Linked DNA regions of Homo sapiens. The protein of the gene in region 1 interacts with the protein of each later gene in a biochemical or structural test. Each region holds a gene or a part of one and is shown on either strand. Other genes may lie near its edges.

Region 1 (4,243 bases):
CAGCCACCCAGGAGGCTGAGGCAGGAGAATCACTTGAAGCCGGAAGGCGGAGGTTGCGGTGAGCAGAGATGGCGCCACTGCACTCTAGTTTGGGCAACAAGAGCGAAACTCCGTCTCAGAAAAGAAAAAAAAAAACCTGCAACATTTCAAAAGATGTTATATTAGTCATTTCAGTGAAAGTTTAATTAGGGAACGGTGTCTACCAGAATATATTTGGCATCCTTCTTTTTTCTGGTATTTGCCTGAGTGAGAAAAGTGTTAGGAATAGGAAGGCCAGATGAGTTTGCTTTCCCTCCAGAGAATACTGGCCAAGAAATTTCCTGTCCAACCTCAGGAGCATCACTGAAGCCTGTTTATGAGGAATTGTCCTACCACAACACTGTGTTATGGCATTTGGGAAGCCCTCAGAGGAGCTGCCTGCTCTAAGATTGAGGCCACATGACTCAGGCCATTATAAACCCTAATGCAGAGCCCTGAAGAGGGAGAGCATTTGGAAGGGGATAGGGAAGCACATAAAGATGATATGCTCAGCTTTACTGTCGTTGGGCAGAAAACTCTCTAGTGGGCTTGAGAGGGGGAACTGATTTTAAGGAGGGCTGAATAGTTTGGGAACCTACTTAATGCAACCATAGTCTGTATTTTTAAAATCCTCACATTTCACTACAGATTTGGGTTTTAGTGTCTTGGCATAAATAGGGCCTTAATATAAATTCTTAGTTTTCTGGAGACATGGTAGAGGTCAGATATCAAGATTTCATAGGCAAACAAAACATGCTATATATGTAAAAAATGTATATACACACACAGCCTTTTGCTAAACTGAAAGAAAGTAAAAATTCAAAGCAGTCAAGGGGTTGAAAGATGGATTGGGTATGGACTTTTCTTCATCTATGTCAATTTTTGAAATCTCTCTCCCATCTCCACCATTCCCTTTGTTAATTGTCCTTGCTTACATTTAAAGGAAGGGAATTAGATCATCAAACAGGTCACTCACACCTACCTCTAACTTCACACACCTTGGTCAATGTGAAACAAGCTTGAACTGGTTATATGCTTCCCCACCATTTTTATTTATTGTAAGCTACTTTAAAAATTTTAGACAATGTTGTAATAAAAATATACACCTTTTTCCCCCATTATCCCTGGTCTTCTGGTGAAGCAAGCAGTGTAATCAATGATTCTTATGTGTGAGGAGCAACTCCAAGTAGAGGCGTTCATGTCCCTAATGCTTTTTTATTTTTCCTCATCAGCAAATTTAAACTACAACTTTATCCTGATCCCACTGCTGCTCTTTGCCTCTTCTCCCCCCAGCCCTTCCACATTTACCAGCCTCCTCCCTACCTCCTCCCAGCCTTTCCCTTTGCCCTCCCCTTTCTTCTAGCCCCTCCTCCCAGTTGAGTCAGTGGCTTGAAACTTTTAAAAGCTCTGTGCTCCAAGTTACAAAAAAGCTTTTACGAGGTATCAGCACTTTTCTTTCATTAGGGGGAAGGCGTGAGGAAAGTACCAAACAGCAGCGGAGTTTTAAACTTTAAATAGACAGGTCTGAGTGCCTGAACTTGCCTTTTCATTTTACTTCATCCTCCAAGGAGTTCAATCACTTGGCGTGACTTCACTACTTTTAAGCAAAAGAGTAAGTTTTTAAAAAATGAGAACACGTTACCTATTAGTTTCTTTTTCTACAAGTAAAACTTTTCTAAAGTTTTAAAATGTGTTAAATGTAATTTTGAATTATGATACTGTAAATGGATTGATGGATTTGAAAGTGTTTCTATAGTTTTAAAGTTAAAATTTATTGTACCAAATATATATTTTGACTGTTAAAAAAGTTTCTATTAACATTGCAACAGGTGAAAAGGTTCAAACCTTTCCGATTAGAATAAAGGATTAGTTTACTGGATGTTTGGTTTTTCATTTTAGAGTATCATTTTATTTTGTTTTTTTTTTGTAATCAGTAATAGTCTAGGTGCTATCATTTGTTGGGTGGGGGGGGGGCGGTTAGGCGCCTGGGTTGGGGGATTTGACTGACTACATCGGAAAAATCAAAGTGCAAATTTGCTTAGCGTGCTTCCTATAGTATTCTACACTTCATAGAATAAAGTGCTTTTTTCATATGGAAATCTTGATTGATGTTCTATAGCTTTGCAAAGCCAACTTCTTTTGTGACGAAGTGCTTTGTTAAAACATCGTGGTTACTTGACTTCCACGTGGTTCCTTCCTAGAATTTTCCCCATTAAACAAAAAGGTATAAAATTCAAGAGTATTAATATTATGCTTTAAAAATCAACAGTAAATTGTTACTTTGTGTTAGCAACCGCTATGGAAAGATTTGAGACCCTCAGGAGAGACAGCTTTTACTCGACCACGTTGGCAGTTTAGGAGATGAAATCTCTTGAATGGGTGGTGGCTAGTTACAGAGCATTAGAGATCAGACGTTTAAAAAAGAGTGTATGCCAGGGTACTTTTCCAAAACCGTCTCCTAAAACGGGAGCTCCTAGAAAGAGCAGGAAAAAAACTTTCTTAAACAGCGCTTTGGGAGCTCCCCCCGCCAACACCCGCCGCCCCGCACCTTCCCTCTGCTCGAACCTGTAACAGAATTCAGAACTCTGGGGCAGTTCTTTGGAGTTGGAGCTCCTAGGGCAAAGATAACGCTAATGCGTTGTTTAAAAGGGTTCAATTTTTAAAATACTTTTATTGGTAACACCCATTCTGTTCATCAGAAATGCAGCCATGCATTTTTGTGCCCGGTAAAGATTTTCTGTTCTGTGTAAATCTACAAACTAAAATAATTAGTTTAGATTCTTGACGTGACCCTGCAGTGGAAGTATTTGCACCAGTGAATGCTGAAAAGCAAATAAAAATGAAAGCTTTGCGGAGGCCGTGGGCCGGACGGGCGCGGGGCGCCTCCTGCCATCTTAGCGTCTGCCGGGATCCTTCCCGCGCCTTCGCTGCCCGAACCAGCTCGGTCTTGGGACGTTTCCCCCAAATCCTCACAAGTCAAATCGAACTCAGGTCCGAGTTCGTCACTGCAAAGGAACCCGGGGTGCGGGGTGGGAGGGATAGGAGGAGAGATGGGCTGGGTGCCAAATGGTAGAACAAATGGTTGATTTAATTAAAGTTGTCAATCTAATTTCCCATCCCTCTCACACCAGCCCTTTTTTTTTTTCTTTTTCTTTTTTCCTCTTAAACTTGCTGAATCCCACTATCTCCGCGTTGGTAAGAAAACCTGAATACCTTGGGAATTGTGCTTAAATTGCACTTGCAACTCCCCTGGAAGTTCCTGAAACTTCCCGAGAATGAGGCGGGGCGGCTCAAGGGGAAAGGGCAGGGAGGAGAGACCCTCGGGAAGCTGATGACGCGTCCGGGGCAAGTCAGCCTGTTTCCGAGACGCGCGCCTCACGGTCGTAGCAGCGCTGCGCCCACCCTGCCCCTTTAGTGACCCAGCCAGCCTTTGCTGGGGGTTTCTGATAACGCTCATCGATAAGCTCTCCTTGCTCCCAAAAGGCGTGCTTCTCTTTCTCTCCAGGTACAAAGTAGGGGTGGGAAGGGGAGAGCTACACAATGTTGTAAAAAGAAGCGTGGCTTTATTTGGAAGACGGTTGAATTTCTTTTGCTTCCTCGACCCAGTTAGTAACGACAAGAAAGATACTGAATATCGCCCTCCGAAAATCGGGCGCATTTGAACTCGGTGAAAAGTGTCCCTGTGAGGAAGCCTAATGTTTACTTTTGTGCAAGGATAACTGGAAATTAAAGCGTCTAGTAATGCAGAGATTTCATTAAGCGAGCGCTCCCCTCCCCCCCGCGCCAGGAATGAAATAAGCCAGTTAGACAGAAAACACTTTTGGGAGAAGACTAATTACTTCTGGGTAGGCCGAATTGACTGGAAATTATACCAAGCAAAGGCAGTACATTCCATTCCGTCCTGGCGATGTTGATTCTATATTATTAGAACATTGTTCCCCCAGTGTGGGGGTGCTTTGTACTTCCCAAAGTCAGGGTAGACTGGTTACCTGGGAAAATGCAGTGTTAGTGCTTTGCTCCTACTTTCTTCACTGTTTAAACATGTTCCACATTTTTCTAATGCCTTCTGAGGGTTCTCAACCCAGCCACTGAGTTCCTCACCCTTGGCGACTGTGATACCAACAATGCTGTCACCCTCCTTGGGAAACATGGTTGCAAAGATGCTCCGCAGGAGGCAGATAAAAGGCTGTGCTTTCAGATACTGAAGGTTGCTTTGTTACTTAGA
Region 2 (3,500 bases), on another chromosome or scaffold:
CCAACCTACCTTTCCAACGAATTCTTGTACTACACATCATGTGCCAATTAAACTGTGCCAGTGTCTCCTGACTGTGTTCACATGATTCCCACCTTCCTGGAATGATCTTCCTTATCCCAGCTCTGTCTACTTTCCCAAATCTATTCATGTTACAAAGCCTGAACTCAAGTGCCACCCCTACTATGAGGGCTTCTGGTACCTTTTTAGTGAGAAAAGCTTACTCTAACGTTGAATTATCACAGTGCTTGATCTGCCCCTGTATGAAGGTACTTAACCTCTATCTCCCTTCATTATGGACATATCTCTTATCTACTAAATGGTAGACTCCTTCACTAAAGAATTCCTGTCTGCTTCATATGATATTCTTTCTCCAAGGCACTGAGGATGTTTTTACAAAACACAAACCAAATTAATATTTGATAAATTAATGTAAACAGAGAGTGAAAAGAAAATAACAACTTATGGGCGAATAGCAGTTTATACGGCCCGAACTCATGTTCTTTTATGTATTTACCTTCCCTGAAAGAACCTAGTGTTCTTCCTATTGAGTTGCAAGGAAGGAGGACTCCTGGTTCTGAGTCCCAAATCCTCACCCACACCTCGGCCTCAGGTCCAGCGGTGTGCTATACTGGCTCACACCGGCTCACAAAAGCCAATTCTGTGCAACACTTCATTGTGTTCAGTGACATCGTGTTAGTAAGTTGAAACTGGACATGGGAGGAGTATTTACATCACAAAATACTACCAATTTGGTACCAAAAACAAACGCTACCAATTTGGATTTCCCCCCACCCCCGCCCCAGAGAGCTAACTTACCAGGATACCGTTGCCCAGATCCCAAATTCTGCCTTATCATAATGCTATGGAAACTTTTGATGCCCAACATCAGACCCTCATGTGACATAGACGCTGACCCAGCTGTGCCTTCTATGCTATGCCGCTCATGCATCTGGCTGGGAGTTGGGAACCTAATGGAACTCTGGAGTCAGAATGGGATGAGGAATTTGCTGGTTACTGCCAAGTTTCCTGCTCTTGTACCTTACCTTTCTGTTCTGAGCCTGCCCTCAGATAGAAACCATAGCCATTGCTTCCTTTCTTCATCTCCACAATTCGGGGCTGGTGGGGTAACAGTTTCAAACTGGCTGTTTCTCTTTTGAATTGTATCTTCTGCTCAACATGACGCTTGTCAGTTTCTTTGTCCACCAGCAGGAACATGACACGGCTTCCTGACTTCTTCACCTGTAACAACACACACAGATGAGGAATGACATCAACCCCCAAGAACAATGCTGGGGAATAAGAAAGTTTCTGTATAAAGGCACACAGTCTCTAGGTTCAACAAAAGATAGGGGATGAAAGGCCTGAGTTTAAGCTGTTACACTATGCCCTACCAGCTAACTGATATGTATTTATCGCCTTTTTTTTTTTTTTTGAGATGGAGTGTCACTCTTTCGCCCAGGCTGGAGTGCAGTGGCACTATCTCAGCTCACTGCAAGCTCTGCCTCCCGGGTTCACGCCATTCTCCTGCCTCAGCCTCCCGAGTACCTGGGACTACAGGTGCCCGCCACCGCACCTGGCTAAATTTTTTTTTTTTTATTTTTAGTGGAGACGGTGTTTCACCTTGTTAGCCAGGATGGTCTCGATCTCCTGACCTCGTGATCCACCCGCCTCGGCCTCCCAAAGTGCTGGGATTACAGGCGTGAGCCACCGCGCCCGGCCCCTATCTCCACTTCTATAGTTGTTTTCCCTTATTTAAGTATGACCTACCCACATAGGTGCTAACTGAGCCCAAGTAGGAGCTGGAATTCAGAAAACCCATAAAGGTACCTAGATAAAAGCTAGAAAGGGAGTTTGGAAAAGAAAAGAAAGTAAGGGTCCACGTCAAAAAATCATTCTACAAAGAGAAGGTTGGTCAATTTTTAAGGTTCCATATGACCTCAAAGGAAAATCTCGGTTATCTCCCACTTCCTATTAAAGCATTTCAGTATTAACGGCTCAACAGTGAACTTATTGTAAATTCAGAGGGCGCAGTGGCACACGCCCATAATCCCAGCACTTTGGGAGGCCAAGGCGGGCAGATCACTTGAGCTCAGGAGTTCAAGACCAGCCTGGCCAACATAGTGAGACCCTATCTCTACAAAACACACACACACACACACACACACACACACACACACACACACATAAAAATTAGCCAGGTGCGGTGGTGCACACCTGTAGTCCCAGCTACTCAGGAAGCTGAGGTAGAAGAATCATCTGAGCCCAGGAGGCCGAGACTGCAATGAGCCGAGATTGTGCCACTACACTCCAGCCTGGGTAACAGAGTGAGACCCTGTCTCAATCAAACAGTTCAGAGGGGGCTCCCAATCAGATACAAACAAGATCCAAAAGGTAAAGTTAATAATTTTGTAGACCTCATGTGAAACTAGGGAAGGCTTTATTCCAAAACCCTATATTAACACTGCTTATACCACTAGTGTGAGTCTGTTCACCCTTAATATGAAGGGGCAACTCAACTGGATATTTTTTCCATCATAAACTCATGCTGTCCCCTACCACCCCTGTCTTCCTGTCACCTCCAATGAGAATAGAGTGGAAGATAGGGTAAGAAAAGTACCCTTTGGGGCATACCTTTTCAACCACTTCCTCATGGCTGGCATCCTCTACATTCTCTCCATTCACTTCAATCAAGTGATCATCAGCCAGAACTCCAGCTCTCATAGCCACACCTTGAGGTGTAATATCAGTCATGTACACCCCCTTTTTACCTGGAAGAGAGTAGGGGTAAACTCCATGTGGAGACACAAGTGACTCCCTCTTGGATGGTAATCTGTGATGTTGACTTCTGATTAGCCCCAGTCCTGTGATTGCCTCCCGATTTCTACTTCATTTACTGTCCCTAGTCTAAGAACATGTCAACCTTAATGTTATCACGCAAATTATAGGCTATGATGCACTATAGCATTCTTGGCTATTGCGGAGGGCTGCCTTCGATTGTCTTGCTGGAGCACATATACCCTTTCCCTATGGTATATCAGCCTTGGGTCTGGGGAGTAACACAGAGATCTACATGTTTTGTGGCTGTCCAAGACCATGCTTCTGTTCGTAAGTTCCCCTGATAAATTCCAATGTACCAACAAACTGGATTTGCCTGCCTTGTCCTTTGGTTTCTCAGCTCCTTTGGCCTTTGAGGGACTGCTTTGCATACACCACCCTTTCACAGAACACTCCATTGCAAAGAAAAACTCGAAATCCAATGGTAAAGACTTTTCTCCCAATAATGTGAAACAAACTTCCGATTTTAGAGCTAACTCGGCCTTTGGCTTCTGATCTAAAATCACAGTTATAGGTCCTGGCACTGAACTTGACACAGCCTTTACTCAGTGGGTATTTGTTGATTTGAATAGAATTTCTGAGGTCAGCTAAATGCAAAGATGGAATCTTGGGTGGCCTTGGCCCCTTGAACCAGAAAGCGCTAAAACATGCCCACACTGCATTAT
Region 3 (3,500 bases), on another chromosome or scaffold:
ACTTCTATTCATCTTCTGTATCTCATCTTAAATATTACATCTTCCCTAGTGGGATTGAGTGTTCCTTGTCTGTTTTCTTGACAAAGAGCGTTAACCTCACCACACAGCATTGAAATTGCCTGTTTTTGCATCTGTCTTCCTAATATATTTTAAGATTCATACAGGCAGAGATTGAATATCATTTGCTACTTCAAACATGCATCTGGCACTATGCCTGGCACATAGCAGGCACTCATAATACACCTTTGTTGAATGGATAAATGATTGAATAAATAAATGAAAGTAGAGTCATTGCCTTAAATATATACACCAGTTTACACCATATATACACCAGTTTACCTTTTAAAAGAATTTTAGCTTGTTTATTACCTATGAGAGATGTTTAAATAGAACAGAACTTAATAGGTTTATTCCAAGTATTACCATGCTTTTAATGATAAAGATGTCACAGTCCTTCAAAATGATAAGCCCCTGATAGAAGCTTCAAAATTGTATCCTAAATTAGGGCCTCAGTGGCTAGCAAAATGGTGTTACCAGAAGAAATGGGTTACAAAAATCTTACCCATAATCTTTGAAAGTTTAAATTTAATAATTCATTTTCACAGGATTTTCTACTTTATTATACTATACCATTCCTCTTGATCTTAAATCCTAAAATAAAGGAGGTCAGGAGAATCGTTTCATAATGAAGGTGATTTGGCCATAATTCTTGAAATAGCTTTGAAAACTTACTAAAAATTGAACCCATGCGGAAAGCTTATTAGTTGGAATTCAGAATGACTAACTGGACAGAAGAGACTGGATAAAACTCATGATCCTTTGCTGACAAAGCAACCTACATTGAGGATATAGAAATACTTGTGTCTTGACTGCCATAAATTCCTGGGCAAGAATTGTAGCTGGAGAACACATTCCCTTATCCCAATCAAAAAAAAAATCTCTCCCTTATACTAAAAAATATTTTGTAATCACTGACATGGTAACATAGTATTAAGAAATAAGCATATAAGGAGAATATATATTTAAGAAAGTATAGTATTCGTATAGTTCAGTAAATGTATTTTACAGAACAGTGAGAAATTTACTTATTGACAAAGGCATGAATGAACAGAATGCCTTAATCCAACATTTTAAAAACCCAATGTTTATCCCAGGCAAATTAACACAGAAACAGAAAACAAAATACCGCATGTTCTTACAAGTGGGAACTAAGAATTGGGTATACATGGACATAAAGACAGGAACAATAGACACTACGCAAGGGACTAGTGGGGCAAGGGCTAAAAAACCACCTATTGAGTACTATGCTCAATACCTAGGTGACAGAATCATTCATATCCAAAACCTCAGCATCACACAATATACTCATGTAACAAATCAGCACATGTACTCACTGAATCTAAGAAAAAGTTGAAGTTTTTTAAAAATAAATAAGTAAAATCCAATGTTTTGTGCATACCTCACTGACTAGATTCTTCTACCCACAAAAGTAAACAATAATAGGCCTAAGGGAGAAATCAAATATTCTATCATAAATAAAAACACTTGAGCAGATTTCCAAAAACCCAGAAGTTCACACATTTTCTAGTATCAAGTCATTAGCATATGCTTTGTACTCTCCCAATAGATATGTAAAATAAAATCAATTAACAGATCATTTTATCTCTACGTCTTCCTCACTAAGTTGCTTCATAGCAAACTCCTAATCAGTAGTTAAACACAAAAAGTATTCTTCTATTTCTCATTCTGGAATTCATTCTATTTATGCCTCCTGGATTAATTAATATTTTACAATATCAAGAGTCTATAGCTTATCCAAGGTCAAAATTGTCCCTACGGGGAATTTCTTTTAAAATAAAAAAGATATGGGATACCCAGGCTGGAGTTCAGTGGCACAATCACAGCTCACTGCAGTCTCAAACTCCTGGGCTCAGGCAATCCTCCAGTCTCAGCCTCCCAAGTAACTGGGACTATAGGCACATGCCAACAAGCCCAGCTAATTTTTTTAATTGGGGAATTTTAAATTAAAAAAAAAAACTTTAGTAAATTGTCTATTTTACTTTGACTTACAGAAAATGCAAAAGTTTGAAAACTGTGTTTTCCCATCTTTCTCTAGGATGATTCAGTGCTTAATTCTTTTGAGTTTTATGGCTGTGAAGAGATTAAAAAAAAAACTTGAAGTTTTGGAAAACAGAAAAAACATGTGCAGCCATATGCAGTGGCTCATGCCTGTAATCCCAGCACTTTCAGAGGTGGAGGCAGATGAATCACCTGAGGTCAGGAGTTTGAGGTCAGCCTGCCCAACATGGTGAAATCCCCTCTCTTCCAAAAATGAAAAAATTAGCCAGGCACAGTGGCAGGCGCCTGTAATCCCAGCTACTCGGCAGGCTGAGCCAGGAGAATCGCCTGAACCCAGGAGGTGGAGGTTGCAGTGAACCGAGATTGCGCAACTGCACTCCAGCCTGGGCAACAGAGCAAAACTCCGTCTCAAAAAAAAAAAGACAAGCTCTCCATATATTACTGGTATGGCAAACATGAAAATTCAAATACAAATTTGGTAAAATGCTTGCAAAAGGAATAAAATAACCACACAAGGCCACTCAATGAAGTCAGGTACAGGCATAGCTCATTTTATTGCACTTTGCTTTACTGCACTTTGCAGACAACACGTTTTTCACAAATTAAGTTTGTGACAACCCTGTGTCAAACAAGTCTATCACTGGCAATTTTCCACAGGATATATTCACTTCATGTCTCTGCGTCACATTTTGGTAATTCTCACAATATTTCAAACTTTTTCATTAGTCTTTTATTTGTTACAGTGATCTGTAATCAGTGATCTTTGATGTTCATTGTAATTGTTTTGGGGCGCCACAAATCATACCCACATAAGACAGCAAACTTAATCTGTAAATGTTGTGTGTTATCTGACTCCTCTACCAACTGGTCATTGCCCCATCTCTCTCCCTCTCCTCAGGTCCCCCTATTCCTGGAGACACAACAATATTAAAGTTAGGCCAATTAATAACTCTACCATGGCCTCTCAGTGTTCAAGTGAAAGGAAACGTTACACATTTCTCACACTCAAAGCTAGAAAATGATTAAGCTTAGTGAGGAAGTTATGTTGAAAGCTGAGATAAGCCAAAAGCTAGGCAGCCCTCTTGCACCAAATAGCCAAGTTGTGAATGCAAAGGAAAAACTCTTGAAGGAAATTAAAAGGGCCACTTCAGTGAACACACGAATAATAAGAGAGACACGCTTACTGTTGATATAGGGAAAGTTTTAGTGATCTGAACAGAAGATCAAACCAGCTGTAATTCCCCTCAAACCAAAGTCTAATCCAGAGCAAGGCCCTAACTCTCTTCAATTCTATATAGGCTGAGAGAGGTGAGGAAGCCACAGAAGAAAGCTGGAAGCCAGCAAAGGTTGGTTCATGAGGTGAAAGGAAAGAAGTCATCTTTACAACATAAAAGTGCAAGGTGAAGCAGCAAGTGCTGATG
Region 4 (3,500 bases), on another chromosome or scaffold:
CTGGGTATAAACCCAAAAGAAGAGAAAGCAGGGACTCGAAGAGATATTTGTACACCCATGGTGTCATAGCAGCATTATTCACAATGGCTAAAAGGTGAAAACAACCCAAATGTGTCCATCAACAGGTAAAGAAACAAATAAAATATAGAATATATATATATATATATATATGAATATTATTCGGCCTAAAAAAGGAATTTTGACATATACTAAAATATGGATGAACCTTGAGGACTTTATGCTTAGAGAAGTAAGCCAGTCACAAAAAGACAAATCTGTATTGACTTCACTTATAAAAGATACCTAAAGTAGTCAAATTCCTAGAAACGGACAACTTGAGAGGCCAAGGCGGCCAGATCGCTTGAATCCAGGAGTTCAAGACCAGCCTGGGCAACATGGCAAAGCCCCGTCTCTTAAAAAAATACAAAAACAAAAAATCAGTCGGGCATGGTGGCGGGCGCCTGTAGTCCCAGCTACTCAGGAGGCTGAGGTGGGAGAATGGCGTGAACCCGGGAGGCAGAGCTTGCAGTGAGCCGAGATCGCGCCACTGCACTGCAGCCTGGGCAAGAGAACGAGACTCCATCTCAAAAAAAAACAAACAAACAAAAAAAGGAGCTGGGTGTGGTGGCATGTGCCTATAGTCCCTGCTACTCGGGAGGCTGAGGTGGGAGGATCAATTGAGCATGGGAGGTTGAAGCTGCAGTGAGCCATGAGTACCACCGCACTCCATGCATTCCAGCCTGAGCAACAGAGTGAGACTCCATCTCCAAAAAAAAAAAAAGAAGAAAGAGAGAGAGAGAAAGACAGCAAGAAAGAAAGAAAGAAAAAAAGAGACAGACAGGAAATATTCATATAATGGTGACTGTCAAGGTCTAGGGGGCCATGTAGTTATTATTCAATAGGTACAGAGTTTCGATTTTGCAAGATGAAAAATTTCTAGAGATGGATGGTGCTGATGTTTGCACAGCAGTGTACAAATACTTAATGCTGGCTGGGCGCAGTGGCTCACGCCTGTAATCCCAGCACTTTGGGAGGCCGAGGCGGGTGGATCACCTGAGGTACGGAGTTCGAGACCAGCCTGGCCAACGTGGTGAAACCCCGTCTCTACTAAAAATACAAAAATTAGCCAGGCGTGGTGGTGGGCACCTGTAATCTCAGCTACCCGGGAGACTGAGGCAGGAGAACCCAGGAGGCGGAGGTTGTGGTGAGCCGAGATCATGCCATTGTACTCCAGCCTGGGCAACAAGAGCAAAACTCTGTCTCAAAAAAAAAAACAAAAAACAAAAAACTTAATGCTACTGAATTTGTACACTTAAAAAGTTATTAAAATAGTAAATGTTATATATATTTTTCCACAATAAAAAATGGTTCAAGGCCGGGTGCGGTGGCTCACGCCTGTAATCCCAGCACTTTGAGAGGCCAAGGTGGGCGGACCATTTGAGGTCAGGAGTTCAAGACCAGCCTGGCCAACATGGGGAAACCTTGTCTCTACTAAAAATACAAAAAAATTAGCCAGGTGTGGTGGCACATGCCTGTAGTCCCAGCTACTTGGGAGGCTGAAGGAGGAGAATTGCTGCAACTGGGGAGGCGAAGGTTGCATGAGCCGAGATCGCACCATTGCACTCCAGCCTAGGTGACAGAGTGAGACTCTGTATCAAAAAAAAAAAAGGTTCAAATGGTAAATTTCATGTTATGTAAATTATTATCACAATTTTGTTTAAATCCTCAAAGCAAATGGGTTATGAGCCTTAGTGTGAAATGAACGTCAAGGTCAACAGGAATTATCTACCAAGGGTTTAGAGGGATAGACTGCCAACATGGGACGCTCCAAACATCTCTATTTGGTTTAAAATGTTTCTGTAGCACTTTTGTGGAACGCAGTCTCAAAAAGATCAATAGAGATACACCGTTCAGAGGAATGCAGTCTATCCCAGGTAAAAGGCGAAAAAAAAATCCAATTTCCCCCCAGCGCAATCCCATTTAAGATTCTTCCCTGCTGAACACACATAGCATCCCTACTGTCCAGGCCAACACGCAGCTCAGCCCTCTTTCTCTATGTTTGCTACCTCTGTGGCTCACATCTTCCCAGGGTTTCAGGAAACGACTATAGAGCCCCCTCGCATGGGGCAGAACATACAGGTGGTTGGAATGAGGTGGGACAAAAAAAAATGAGACAACGGCCGAGAGTGGTGGCTCATGCCTATAATCACAGCACTCTGGGAGGCTGAGGTAGGCGGATCACCTGAGGTCAGGAATTCGAGACCAGCCTGGCCAAGATGGCAAAATCCCGTCTCTACTAAAAATATAAAAATTAGCCGGGGGTGATGGCACACACCTGTAATCCCAGCCACTCGGAAGGCTGAGACAAGAGAATCACTTGAACCTGGGAGGCAGAGGGTGCAGTAAGCTGAGATTGCACCACTGCACTCCAGCCTGGGCGACAGAGCAAGGCTCCATCTCAAAACAAACAAACAAAAAAAAAACTGAAACAAAATATTTATCCTACTCTGCTTACTTTTTCAGGAAATGGAAAACCAGAGTATCAAAAACCACTCAACACTAACATTAAATCAGATTAACAGCAATCCTGATGTAGAGCTGGAAGGGCCCCCAAAATCGAGTCCAACCCAATCACCCAACCTCCTTGGACCAAATGCCACCTGGGAAGTGCTCAAAACCCCACAGGAATGAGCAAGTCTCCCGTCAATGCTCAACCTCTTCTGTTTTGACTGTTGAACTGGGGGAAAAAAAAAAAACAAGCACCAGGAAGCTAAAAGGCTCTGCCAAGGTCAAGATTTTGCAGTTAGGAACAGATCTCCAGTTCAGGGCTTTTTTTTTTTTTTTTTTTTTTTTTTTTAAAGAAAAGTTCCTCAGTATTCTTTTGAGGACATCAAGTTGACATTCAAATTCTATGTGTAGAAAGGGAATGACTTTCTACTCTTAGACAGCGTGGGTGCTCCACATGGCTCCTGGCAGCCAGCTCCACACCACCAGTACCTGATGGGCAACCTTGGGAACTTCAGACATCAATGTCACACCACCTGCTTCCATCACAGACATACCGTGGGCGGTGATATCCCTGTGTACATCTGGGGCTTGCTCAAGCCTTCCTCCTCTCCCACAGCCTCTGCCACCATGAGGTCACCACTTAGGAATCTGCATGTATATTTGAAGATGATCTGGACAAGGATACATCATTCACTCTACACACAGCTGACTATTCATTCGTTCAACAAAAAATTATCGAACACCTATCTTGTACTAGGCTCTATTCTGGGCATGAGGACTATAACAGCAAATTCAGCTCAGGGAGGACAGCTCTGACACCTGCTTGGCATAGTATACAAGGAGCTCCCACAGAACCCTCAGAAACACCAGGAGATTCCCAGTTTTCTGGTTCTAAGGCTAGTTGCTGTCTACTACTGCCACTGTTGTGCTATATTACTCAGGGTAACAAAATGCTCTTCCATTTTTCCTACCATGGATTGTCAAATAGCACA
Region 5 (3,500 bases), on another chromosome or scaffold:
GGGGTTCAGCCTGTGAGCCATCTCTTTTCCCAGCTGTCAGAGACTTGACTGCGTGCTGCAAAACAAGTCATACTACTGTGCGCAAAGAGTCAGTGGGCAGCAGGCGAGGCCTCGAGAGACTTCCCTAGGCATCTCAGGGTGTGCCCTTGGTGGCCTCTTGTGGAAGTCAAGAAGCCATTCTTGATAGGCGAGTTGCCAGATGAGAGGCTTCTGAGCACCCAAGACCCCCTGGCATAGTCAGAAAGGTGCCCGGAAGGAATGCTGCAGTGTTTGCTGATGCCTATTCAGAGGGGACATAGGGCCTCTCTTTCACGAACATCCTCAGATGGGGGGGAACTGAGGCAGCATCCAAACCAAGAATCAAAATAGGGTTAGAATTACAATTGGCTGTGTGACTCGAGCCTCCATTTTCCCCTCTGTAAAATGGGGGTGTCTCTCCCATGGCTGACTCCAGCTGGCCAGAGCTTGAGAAGTTGAGGGGATTACTTTATTTATAGAAAACCCCTTGGGGGGGTCAGACCCTAGGCCCCCTCCTCAGAGAACATGCTTGCTCTCTCCCACTCTCTCTTTTTTGTTCCAGGACCTGGTAATTATATGCTTAGAGATGAAGGCTTTTCAAAAACATCTTTCCCACCAATTTTCAGCTGGAAACGTGCATAAAAAACAGAGATATTTTTATCCATGTTTTTTTTTTTCCCTGTCTCCTCCTTCCAGCAACGGGCAATTATGAGCTTTTGCCTTCAGTCAATCGTCCTGTAGGAACTCGCTTCAGAGGAAAATTCATTTCCGCAGTGGTGCCAGCCAGTCCCGGCGAATGTGGGGTGTGCAAGTCAGGGGAGGAGGGACAGAGGGAGAAACGTGCTTGGAGCTCAGACCTGTGCACCTGGTACTCAGGCCCACGCTGCAGCCGGGGTGGGTGGCCTTCTTTTTTATTTTATTTCTCTTGAAATCATGGCTAATTTGCCTTCATTATCTCCCGCTCTCTGGGGCCTCAGGGGGCTATTGAGCTTTGACAAAGGGAAAAGGAAGTCAACTCCTTGCCAGGCTGCCTTCGCCAGGGTCCTGCCTAAGCGGGTGGCTGGAAAGAAGCGTGGGGGAGTGGGTGGGACTATAAAGTCAGCCGGCTTTGACTGCTGCCCTGTTCTGTGAGCCTCCTGGAGGGAGGACTCAGCATCTCAAAAGGGACCACTGAGAAAACAAATGCCCAGAGGCTCCACTTGGGGCGAACAGGACATGATTTGCAGGGACGGTGAGCTGTCGGCCAGGACCATGCCAGCTCACCGGGACCCTGGGTGCTGAAGAGGACATGGGCGCTAAGTACTCCACCAAGTGACGGTCCAGCCCCAGCCAGCTTCGCCCCACCATGGAAGGGATTGTTGATATGGTGGGAAGGGAGGGATAGGCTTTGGAGTCAGTCCAACTTGGGACTTTGATTCTAAATCGGCTGCCAACTGGCTAAGGGATCTGGGACAAGTCACTTCTCTCTGAGCCTCAGACTTCTCCTCTGCAAAATGGGGGTACTGGTGCCCACCTCATGGGTTGCTGGGAGGAACTGTGGGGAAGTGTGCACAGAAACCATAAAACATGGCAGTTCCCTCCCTGCCTGCTTCCCTCACCTTGTTGAAAGGTTTTCCTAGATCAATCATGATGATGGCTCCTAGTGATTAAGTGCTGGTTTCTGTGCTTCCTAAGCACGATCTCATTTAATCCTCACCACTTTTGAGGCGGTATAATCATGATTCTCATTTTACAGATGAGGAAACTGAGGCACAGAGAGGTTAAGTGATATCCCATGATAAAGGGCAGGGCCAGGGTTTGAACCCAGGCCTAATGAGGCACAGAGAGGTCAAGGGAACTGCCCAGGGGCACAGAGCTTCTAAGTGGCAGAGCCAGGATTGAAGCCCAGGCCTTCTGGCTCCCTAAGGGGTCTGGCCCTACCCTCTGGGTACCTTCCTGCCTACTCCCCCATCCATGCAAGCCTGGAAGTTGCTGTAATGCCTGCAGCCCCGGGGCTGTTCGGCTCCAGGCAGAGCCCCAGCTCCTTTGGGCGTTCCTCCCTGGCCACTGAGGGCTGGAACAGGCCAAGGGCTCGATGGAGATGCCTCAAAGCCAGTTACAGGCTGACCTCTGAATGACAGTTCCAATCCCCACGGGCGACAAGCCTCCCAGGAAGCCCAGCTTCCATGGGGAGAGCAGCATAGAAAGATCAGATAAGCTCGGCAGAAGCACGTTTTTCAGGGAGACAAAAAGAAATGCATCAATACATTTAAAAATTTGAAGCCTCATTCATTTGTTGCCAAGGATTGCAAAGAAAAAAATAAAGAACCTTAATAAGTAGCACCCAGTGTTGGGCCCTTCCCTGGGCCAGGCCTGCTCTAAGCACTTTATGAATGCTAAGTCAGTTAATTGTCCTAAGAACCATGGAGGGAGGCTCACCGATTGTCCCCAGTTTACAGATAGGGAGCCTGAGGCCCAGAGAAGCCACTGAGCTGGTGAGCTGCAGAGGCACCTGGAACCCAGGGCTCCCTGACCTCACAACAGACCATGCCCTGAACCCTTGGCTCTGCTCTTTCCCTCCAAACAGGAGGGCAACAGACCCCAAATGAGAAGCATCAGGGCACTGGGAAGGTGACAGCTCCAGTATCCCAAGAATACCTAAGTTAGGGCTCAGGCACTCACAGGCTGGGTGCATCAGGGCTAGCAGGACCCATGGCATCACCTGGAGAGGCCGCCACCCCCACAATCCTCCTCCACACAGGGAGAGGGGCTCCTGTCCAGCAGGCCTGAGCCACACGCAGGCCAACATCCCACCATGGGAGAGCGGGGGCGCAGTCTCAAGTTGGGGGTTGGCCTTCTGCGTTCTGGGTCCTGCTCTCCTGCCCTACTCTAAAACCAGCAATGTCAAGGAACGTGACCTCAAAATCAGGGTCACCCACAGAACCATTCAGTTTCCCAATGGCGGCTGCCTGCAGTCACAAGAAGACTGTGTCTAGCTCAGGGAGAGTAGAAGCAGAAGTCCTCACCACAACTGTCAGTCCCCGGTCCCCTGACTTCACCTCCTGATGCTCGCCCTGGCCAGCTCCACTCCAGCACACTGCATTTTCTCACTTAATCCTCATAACCACACTGCCACTTGGGCACTGTTATTCTCCCCATTTTACAGCTGGGAAAACTGAGGCATGGAGATGCTAAGTGACTTGTTCCTGGTTACACAGCCAGAAGTGACAAAGCGGAGATTTGACCCTATGGGCCCACCCCACCTTGGCAACTGCACTCTAAAGGGAGGTGAAGCCTTCCTGGACACATCTGTCCTTTCGACCCAAGGCCCACCAGACTCACATCCCCCTAGGGCCTTTGCATCGGCTGTTCCCTCTGCCCACAAAACTCTTCCCCAGACATCATCAAAACTCCCGTCTCAGCTCCTTCGGGAACTTGTAGAAATGTCACCTCCTCAGGGAGGCCTTCCCCATCCGCCTGTTGGAACTTACACACGCACCCTG
Region 6 (3,500 bases), on another chromosome or scaffold:
AAGACAGTGACAGGAGCAAAGAGAAGTCCAGGGACCAGTCTGCTCATGGGTGTCCCCCGCCCAACAGAGCCCCTGAAGTACAGAACCATGTGGCACTCCACAACTAAGAGGCCAAACGCTGGATGGGTTAAGCAGACACCAGGGAGCGCTGCTCTGACCATTCGGTGGGCTCCCCAGCCTTCCTGCCACCACTCCAAAGCAGGAGAGCCTGGCTTCAGTGGTGAGAGGGGAAGCATCTCCATCCACCACCAGACACATATGTCAAAACACAGACAACAAAACCAACAAAAACACCTTGAGGACAAGGCAGCCCTCCTGTCTCACACAGCTGGGATCTGCCCATCTCTTAGTGGTGAGGGAAAAGAAAGCTCAGGCGGAGGAGCAGCGCTCGTAGGAGGCACAAACAAAGCCCGCCCATCCAAGATGACACGCGAATGAAGATGAGACATGGACACACCAAACTATGGAGAGAGATGCTGCTCATTTCAGCCAAGACCACACTGTTCCAGACCATGATATGCTGTGGCCCCCCCACCCAGAAAGGACTGGCTGAGTTGCCACACATGGCTAGTTCCTGAACAATCCCCATGGGCAACTCCTTTGCCTTTGGTCTGTATTATTTATTGAAGGAGAGTATATGCTGATAGAACCCATTTGGTGTCTGTGCACCCTTGCACGCAGCAGGATGGCCACTAAGGCCTCATCATCTAGGTCTTTTTCATTTTCCACTCCAGGATTCTTTTCCAGAAAGGAAAATGAGGTTGGAGTTTTCCTGAGATAAAGCACTAACTATATATGGTCCATAAATGATGCTGAGGCCCCTAGCAGACCAGCTCAACCCCTTACAGGTGCTCTGTGGGAAGCCAAACAGTGGCTGTTTGCTGAGGCCCGGGATCTGCTGGGACATCTCAGATGCAGGTTGGGAAAAAGGGGTCACAGTACCCTTGCCCCTAGTTAGAGGACTGTTAACAGCTGCAATTCCTACACCCAATTCTTTAGCGTGGTATCACTGGGAGAAGAATCCAACCAGCAGGCACCCCTCCCTTCGACAATAGGCTAGAGATTAGCTGAGTGGTTACCTTGGAGAAACATTTCAAGCTTACTTCACTTCTAAGGTGGGATGCCATGCTCACGCCCTCCCACTTTGAGTAGCAAAAGGTAAACAAAGGCATGAATGATATGGACTTATTTGGGTACTAGGGATCCATAGCAAACATGTAACATATGGAGCCACATGCACTTCTTCCTGCTGTGATGTCAGAGTGCTCACAAACACTGCCCTCCCCTCACCCTTCACCCTCACCCATGTCCCCAATAGCCCCACCCCCACTATCTCCATTCATGCCACAAGTACAGTGAACGGTGTGTAAGTTGGACTTACTCAGGTTCTTTGCTCCATAATAATCGTCACTTAACCCCGGGAAGTCCTGATTTCACAGACAGCAAGGGCGGAGAGAGGACGACGGGGAGAAGAGGGGGGAAGGGGAAGGGATGGGAGGGAATGGAAGAGAGGGAGAGATTTGGGGAGAAGAGAAAAAATAGAGAAAAAGACAAGGGGGGAGGAAGAATACAGAGGTAGGTGAGCACTAGTGACAGAATTATGAAACACCATGAAGACCTAGCACTATAGTGAGGCCAGGAACTTTGCCACAGAAAGAACATCCCAGGGCAGATAAGACATCAAGACTTCATGCTGCCCAATTCATTGCCAGAGGGCCTTGGAGTAGACTAGCTTTCTGAGGTGTCTACAGCTGTAGGCCAATGGGACAGGACAGGTGACACTCCAAGGCTTAGAGCACCTGCTTTGACTAAATTTTGGTTGTGGAGCCCAGGTCTCTGTTTGCCCCTGAAATCACCATTTCCCTCTGCAGTGCGTGAAAGAGCAAATGTCCGCGTGTGCCAGGTAGGCAGATAGAATTGCCATCACCTCAAGAAGCCTTTGCCCAATACTGATTCACTCTGTTCAAACCCTTCAGGAAAAGTTTCGCATGGTGTAGAGTGTGGCCTCCAAAGCTGCCCTGAGCTGGACAGATCTTGGGGGATGAGCTCAGCTTCTGGAGAAGCACTAGGCACCTTCAACTCTGTCATCCAGTAGATACCCCCTCGCCCACCAGGCGGGACCACTGAGCAATGAACACCTCCCCAGGCTGGGCTTGGCATGGAGGGACTCTGGGACTCATCTGATGAAACTATGGTGACATCACCTCAGGCCTCTGACTCAGACTGTCTCCTAACTGCTCATGAGCAGAGCCACCCCGTCTATGGCTTCTCATTGAACTACTCCAGGATGATGAGCCGTGGCTGCCATCTAGATGAGGGCACCCTTCTGTCCACCAGGTACCACCCCAGATAGCAATGACTTACACATACCATGACTGTGGACCAAGCTGGCCTGACAGAAGGACATTTCCTATCAGAACCAGTCAGTCTCCTGCCAGCCCCAATAGACCAAGACCCCAAGATCCCTCCATGTAAGACAGAGGAGTCACTGGTAAATGAGAGATGTTTACTGTTCATGATGAGACAAGTGAGAAGACATTTTTCAAGCCAGACCTGGTGTTTAAGGTTAAGGTTGGAGCAGTTAATTGCTGAGGCACACGGTAGAGCAAGAAGATTTATCAGGATTAAATTTCTTCTTCCGTTGAATTTAGCTCAGTGTGACTGCTCTTCCTACCGAACCAACTTTGTGTTTCTCAATAGATCTTTATTTGAACAATGTGGAGCAACACTCCTTCCATGTCAACTCATTTAAGCAGGAAGGATTCTCCTGGGAAAACTGGCTCTGTAGGCACTCTAGGATGACAGCGAGTCTGCTGAGAGTTGTGTGGATATCCTGTATGCTTATGCACGTGCATGGGATTCCAGAAGTAGCCCCAACTCCAGGGATCCTGGGAAGAAAAGGCTCTTCTCTTGACATACATGAGTGAAGTTAAGGGAAAGAAAACACAAGAGGAAGAAACCAGGAGAGCAACACTGAGTCCCTAGACCTTGTTCTCTTGAAAAACCATTTTCCTGACCCTGACAGTCTAGCTAAAAAACCGTTCCTCACCACCACAGCAGAGCTCTGTCTGGCACTTCCACTGCTAGTGCCAGGCACTTCCTGGAGGCTGACCCTGGGACCAGTCCCACCTCAGTGCCTCCAACATTCATTCTAACTGAGGAGCAGGACAAATAAAACCCAACATCTCCTTAGGCAGACCAGTTTCTGCCCTGACTCTGTAGATAAGCAGGTGCACACGCACACAGGCAGGCACGAGGCCACACGTGGCCCTGCCCAGGCTTCTCTCGAGGGAAGGGCAACTGAGGATGAGAGGATGGGGCTGCAGATGGCCTGCTCTCTGGACTCTGCTGCTACTTACGTTCCTGTATGCTGCTCTCCTGGGCCATGTTTTCTTTGCTCTTGTAAAATGGAAACTTTCGAGAGAGGCGGAAACTCTTTTTACGTTTCGTTTTGATCGACTGTGAAAGAACATGAAGATGGAGGGGAAGGACAGAAGAAA
Region 7 (3,500 bases), on another chromosome or scaffold:
CGACGTGGAGCCCCGCACAGGATTACGGGAGCCCTTGGTGGGCGGGCGCTGGTGTGGGAAAGACTCAGGCCGCTCCTCTATTCTCTGTGCTCAAGAAGCTTCAGTCAATGGCAGAGAGAATGCCAGGTGGCGGAACCAGGCCTGCACATTGGAAGGTGAGGGCCCGGAGAGATGACATTTTCCATTGCTGACCGGCCGAAGAGGCAGAAATAACGTCTGAAATCTCTGGGAGGCCGTGAACTGAGGAGGGTCAGCCCGTCCTCCCTGCACCCAAGGAGGGTGCACAGGTGAGGCCGTGAACTGGGGAGGGTCAGCCCATCCTCCCTGCACCCAAGGAGGGCGCACAGGTGAGGCCATGAGCTGGGGAGGGTCAGCCCATCCTCCCTGCACCCAAGGAGGGCGCACAGGTGAGGCCATGAGCTGGGGAGGGTCAGTCATCCTCCCTGCACCCAAGGAGGGTGCACAGGTGAGGCCGTGAGCTGGGGAGGGTCAGCCATCCTCCCTGCACCCAAGGAGGGGGCACAGGTGAGGGTCAGGAGCCTTTCCCATGGCTCGATTTAATGCCTAGGGGCTAGGAGGGCGTTTCCCACCTCAGCTCATGGCCATGGGTGCTGACCAGGGCCTGCAGGACATGAATCACACTAGCTCTGCTGGCACCCATTTGCCACAGGTGGCTGGTGGGGCGTCCTGCTCAGGCCCACCTGGATACCACCCCACCAGTCCTGCCAGCATTCTGCCACAGCCGCCGGAAGGGGAGACAGACCTGCCCCTAGTCTCGCTCTCCTCTTCCCACAGGGGTCCTCGAGCGGGGGTTGCAAACTGGCCCAAGGCCCAAACGCTGTCCATTGCCTGTTTTGTGAATCAAGCTTCACTGGAACGCAGCCACACCCACCTGTGCAGCCTAAGGCTGCATTTTTGCCACAGCAGAGATGCGTGGTTGTGACAGAGACCACAGGGCTTGCAAAGATAAAATATTTACCATTTGGCTTCATGGAAAATTTGTTGGCTGGGCACCATGGCTCACACCTGTAATCCCAACACTTTGGGAGGCCGAGGCAGGAGGATTGCTTGAGCCCACGAGTTCTAGACCAGCCTGGGCAATACAGCGAGACCCTATCTCTACCAAAAATTTAAAAATTAGCCAGGTATGGTGGTGCATGCCTGTAGTCCTAGCTATATGGAAGGCCAAGGTGGGAAGATCCCTTAAGCCCAGGAGTTTGACGCTGCAGTGAGCTGTGATTGTGCCACTGCACTCCAGCCTGGGCAACAGAGCGAGACCCTGAAAAAAAAAAAAAGAGAGAGAGAGGGGGAGGAAGGGAGGAAGGAAGGAAGGAAGGAAGGAAGGAAGGAAGGACGGACGGAAGGAAGGAAGGAAAATTTGGGGGTGGGGTGCAGTGGCTCATTCCTGTAATCCTAGCACTTTGGGAGGCCAAGGCAGGGGATCACCTGAGGTCAGGAGTTCAAGACCAGCCTGGCCAACATGGTGAAACCCATCTCTACTAAAAATACAAAAATTAGCTGAGGGTGGTGGCATGCACCTATAGTCACAGCTACTTGGGAGACTGAGACAGGGGAATTACTTGAACCTGGGAGGTGGAGGTTGCAGTGAGCCGAGATCCTGCTACTGCACTCCAGCCTGGGTGACAGAGCAAGAACCCGTCTCAAAAAAAAAAAAAAAAGGCTAGGCACGGTGGTTCACGCCTGTAATCCCGGTACTTTGGGAGGCCAAGGCAGGTGGATCACCTGTGGTTGGGAGTTCAAGACCAGCCTGACCAACATGGAGAAACCCCGTCTCTACTAAAAATACAAAAAAATTGGCCAGTGTGGTGGCACATGCCTGTGATCCTAGCTACTCGGGGGGCTGAGGCAGGAGAATTGCTTGAACCCGGGAGGCGGAGGTTGTGGTGAGCCGAGATGACGCCATTGCACTCCAGCCTGGGCAACAAGGGCAAAACCCCATTTCAAAAAAAAGAAAAGAAAATTTGCCAACTCCTGTCCGTGAGCACACCCCTCAGTGGGTTTCCTTAACTTTAAAATGGAGGTGATGCCCCCAGACTCAATCGCGACCGTGAAAAGTCTGAAAAGCAGGGAAGGGTCCCCATTAGGGGAACTCCTTGGAACCATTAAATCTCCTCTCCCTTGATGGGGCAAGAGGAAACCCCCTTGCAAAAGATTTCATCACAAATGCTGTAAACGTTCATTCAGAAAGAGAGGAAGCCAAATTCAAACCAGCCAAGGTGAACTTCCCAGTCCAAGGGAAGCTCCGGGTCCAACGCTGGTGTGAGACATGGGACTCAGTGACCTCATGGCATGGGGAGCTGCAAGTAACTCAACTGTGGTCCCCAGGGTCACATAAGCATGGCATTGGGCAAGACAAGAACAAGCTGGAGGGAGGCCGGGGTCCTAGCTGAGCGGGCCAGCCCTGCTCCAGTGCGCTGTGATCTTGGACGAGTTACCTAACTTCCAAGCCTCAGTTGCCCCGTCTGAAATCCCAAGATAATGAGGTCCCTGATATGGTTTGGCTCTGTGTCGCCACCCAAATCTCATGTCAAATTGTAATCCCCATGTGTTGGGGGACGGGCCTGGTGGGAGGTGATGGGATCATGGGGGCAGACTTCCCCCATGCTGTTCTCATGGTGGTGAGTTCTCACGAGATCTGATGGTTTTAAAATGTGTGGCATGTCCCACTTCACTCTCTCTCTCTCCGGCTCTGCCATGAGAAGATGTCCCTGCTTCCCCTTTGCCTTCCGTCATGATTGTATGTCTCCTGAGGCCTCCTGGTCATGCTTCCTGTACAGCCTACAGAACTCTGAGTCAACGAACCCTCTTTTCTTCATAAATGACCCAGTCTCAGGTAGTTCTTTATAGCAGTGTGAAAACAGACTCATACAGGCCCTTTCCTCCCAGGCCTGTGGTGAGAATTAGAGGAGTGCAGTCAGCGCCTGGCTGAGAGCAGGCCTTCCAGAAACAGCCGGTGGAGGAAGAAGAGGATTCTGGGGGCCTCAGTGCAGGCCTCTTCTGGGTCAGCTGGTGGGAGGTACAGACGTGAAGGTGGAGGGATGGGGTCCCTGTCCCAAGTGTTCCCCACGGCAGCCCCCTGGCCTCCACGCCCAAACCCAGATGCCATCCCATGGGGCAGGTGCATCCCCAGTAGTGGGCCCAGGTAAGACAGTGAAGAGCCTCCGTGGGGTGTGATATGGGACCACAGCCCACCCACTGTGGGCCACATGCTTCCTGGCTCTGCCCTGCACCTAGCGGCTCAGGGAGCGCAGGACAAGGAGTCCAAAGACCTGGGTTCTAGGTCTTTTCCAAGCCGTGACCCTGGGCCAGCTGCCAGTCCTCCCTGGGCCCAGTTTCCTCCCCCTGGCTGATGGAAGGTGGGGCTAGCTTGCCTCTGGGTTCCGGCGTCTGGGAAGAGGCCACCATGCCCAGCCCCAGGTGCTTCCGCCCCTCCACCCACGCCCACCCACCTTGGGATGGATCTTGATGGTGGCAATGTC

Evidence for each region.
Region 2: the proteins of GJA1 (region 1) and PDZK1 interact in a test that uses a peptide from one of them, tested with the Homo sapiens proteins (one large-scale study listed by IntAct).
Region 3: the proteins of GJA1 (region 1) and DLG2 interact in a test that uses a peptide from one of them, tested with the Homo sapiens proteins (one large-scale study listed by IntAct).
Region 4: the proteins of GJA1 (region 1) and DLG5 interact in a test that uses a peptide from one of them, tested with the Homo sapiens proteins (one large-scale study listed by IntAct).
Region 5: the proteins of GJA1 (region 1) and GRIP2 interact in a test that uses a peptide from one of them, tested with the Homo sapiens proteins (one large-scale study listed by IntAct).
Region 6: the proteins of GJA1 (region 1) and DLG3 interact in a test that uses a peptide from one of them, tested with the Homo sapiens proteins (one large-scale study listed by IntAct).
Region 7: the proteins of GJA1 (region 1) and HTRA3 interact in a test that uses a peptide from one of them, tested with the Homo sapiens proteins (one large-scale study listed by IntAct).

What each region holds. Positions count from the first base shown.
Region 1 is NC_000006.12:121,434,203-121,438,445, forward strand, and holds the start of GJA1 (gap junction alpha-1 protein), read left to right. Parts: upstream 1-1,443; 5' UTR 1,444-1,630; intron 1,631-4,243. UniProt on the Homo sapiens protein: Gap junction protein that acts as a regulator of bladder capacity. A gap junction consists of a cluster of closely packed pairs of transmembrane channels, the connexons, through which materials of low MW diffuse from one cell to a neighboring cell.
Region 2 is NC_000001.11:145,679,869-145,683,368, forward strand, and holds part of PDZK1 (Na(+)/H(+) exchange regulatory cofactor NHE-RF3), read right to left. Parts: intron 2,769-3,500; coding exon 2,632-2,768; intron 1,240-2,631; coding exon 1,044-1,239; intron 1-1,043. UniProt on the Homo sapiens protein: A scaffold protein that connects plasma membrane proteins and regulatory components, regulating their surface expression in epithelial cells apical domains.
Region 3 is NC_000011.10:85,617,345-85,620,844, forward strand, and holds part of DLG2 (disks large homolog 2), read right to left. Parts: intron 1-3,500. UniProt on the Homo sapiens protein: Required for perception of chronic pain through NMDA receptor signaling. Regulates surface expression of NMDA receptors in dorsal horn neurons of the spinal cord.
Region 4 is NC_000010.11:77,916,756-77,920,255, forward strand, and holds part of DLG5 (disks large homolog 5), read right to left. Parts: intron 1-3,500. UniProt on the Homo sapiens protein: Acts as a regulator of the Hippo signaling pathway.
Region 5 is NC_000003.12:14,533,843-14,537,342, forward strand, and holds part of GRIP2 (glutamate receptor-interacting protein 2), read right to left. Parts: intron 1-3,500.
Region 6 is NC_000023.11:70,493,335-70,496,834, reverse strand, and holds part of DLG3 (disks large homolog 3), read right to left. Parts: intron 3,460-3,500; coding exon of another isoform or gene 3,360-3,459; intron 1,428-3,359; coding exon 1,382-1,427; intron 1-1,381. UniProt on the Homo sapiens protein: Required for learning most likely through its role in synaptic plasticity following NMDA receptor signaling.
Region 7 is NC_000004.12:8,286,754-8,290,253, reverse strand, and holds part of HTRA3 (serine protease HTRA3 isoform 1 precursor), read right to left. Parts: coding exon 3,471-3,500; intron 1-3,470. UniProt on the Homo sapiens protein: Serine protease that cleaves beta-casein/CSN2 as well as several extracellular matrix (ECM) proteoglycans such as decorin/DCN, biglycan/BGN and fibronectin/FN1.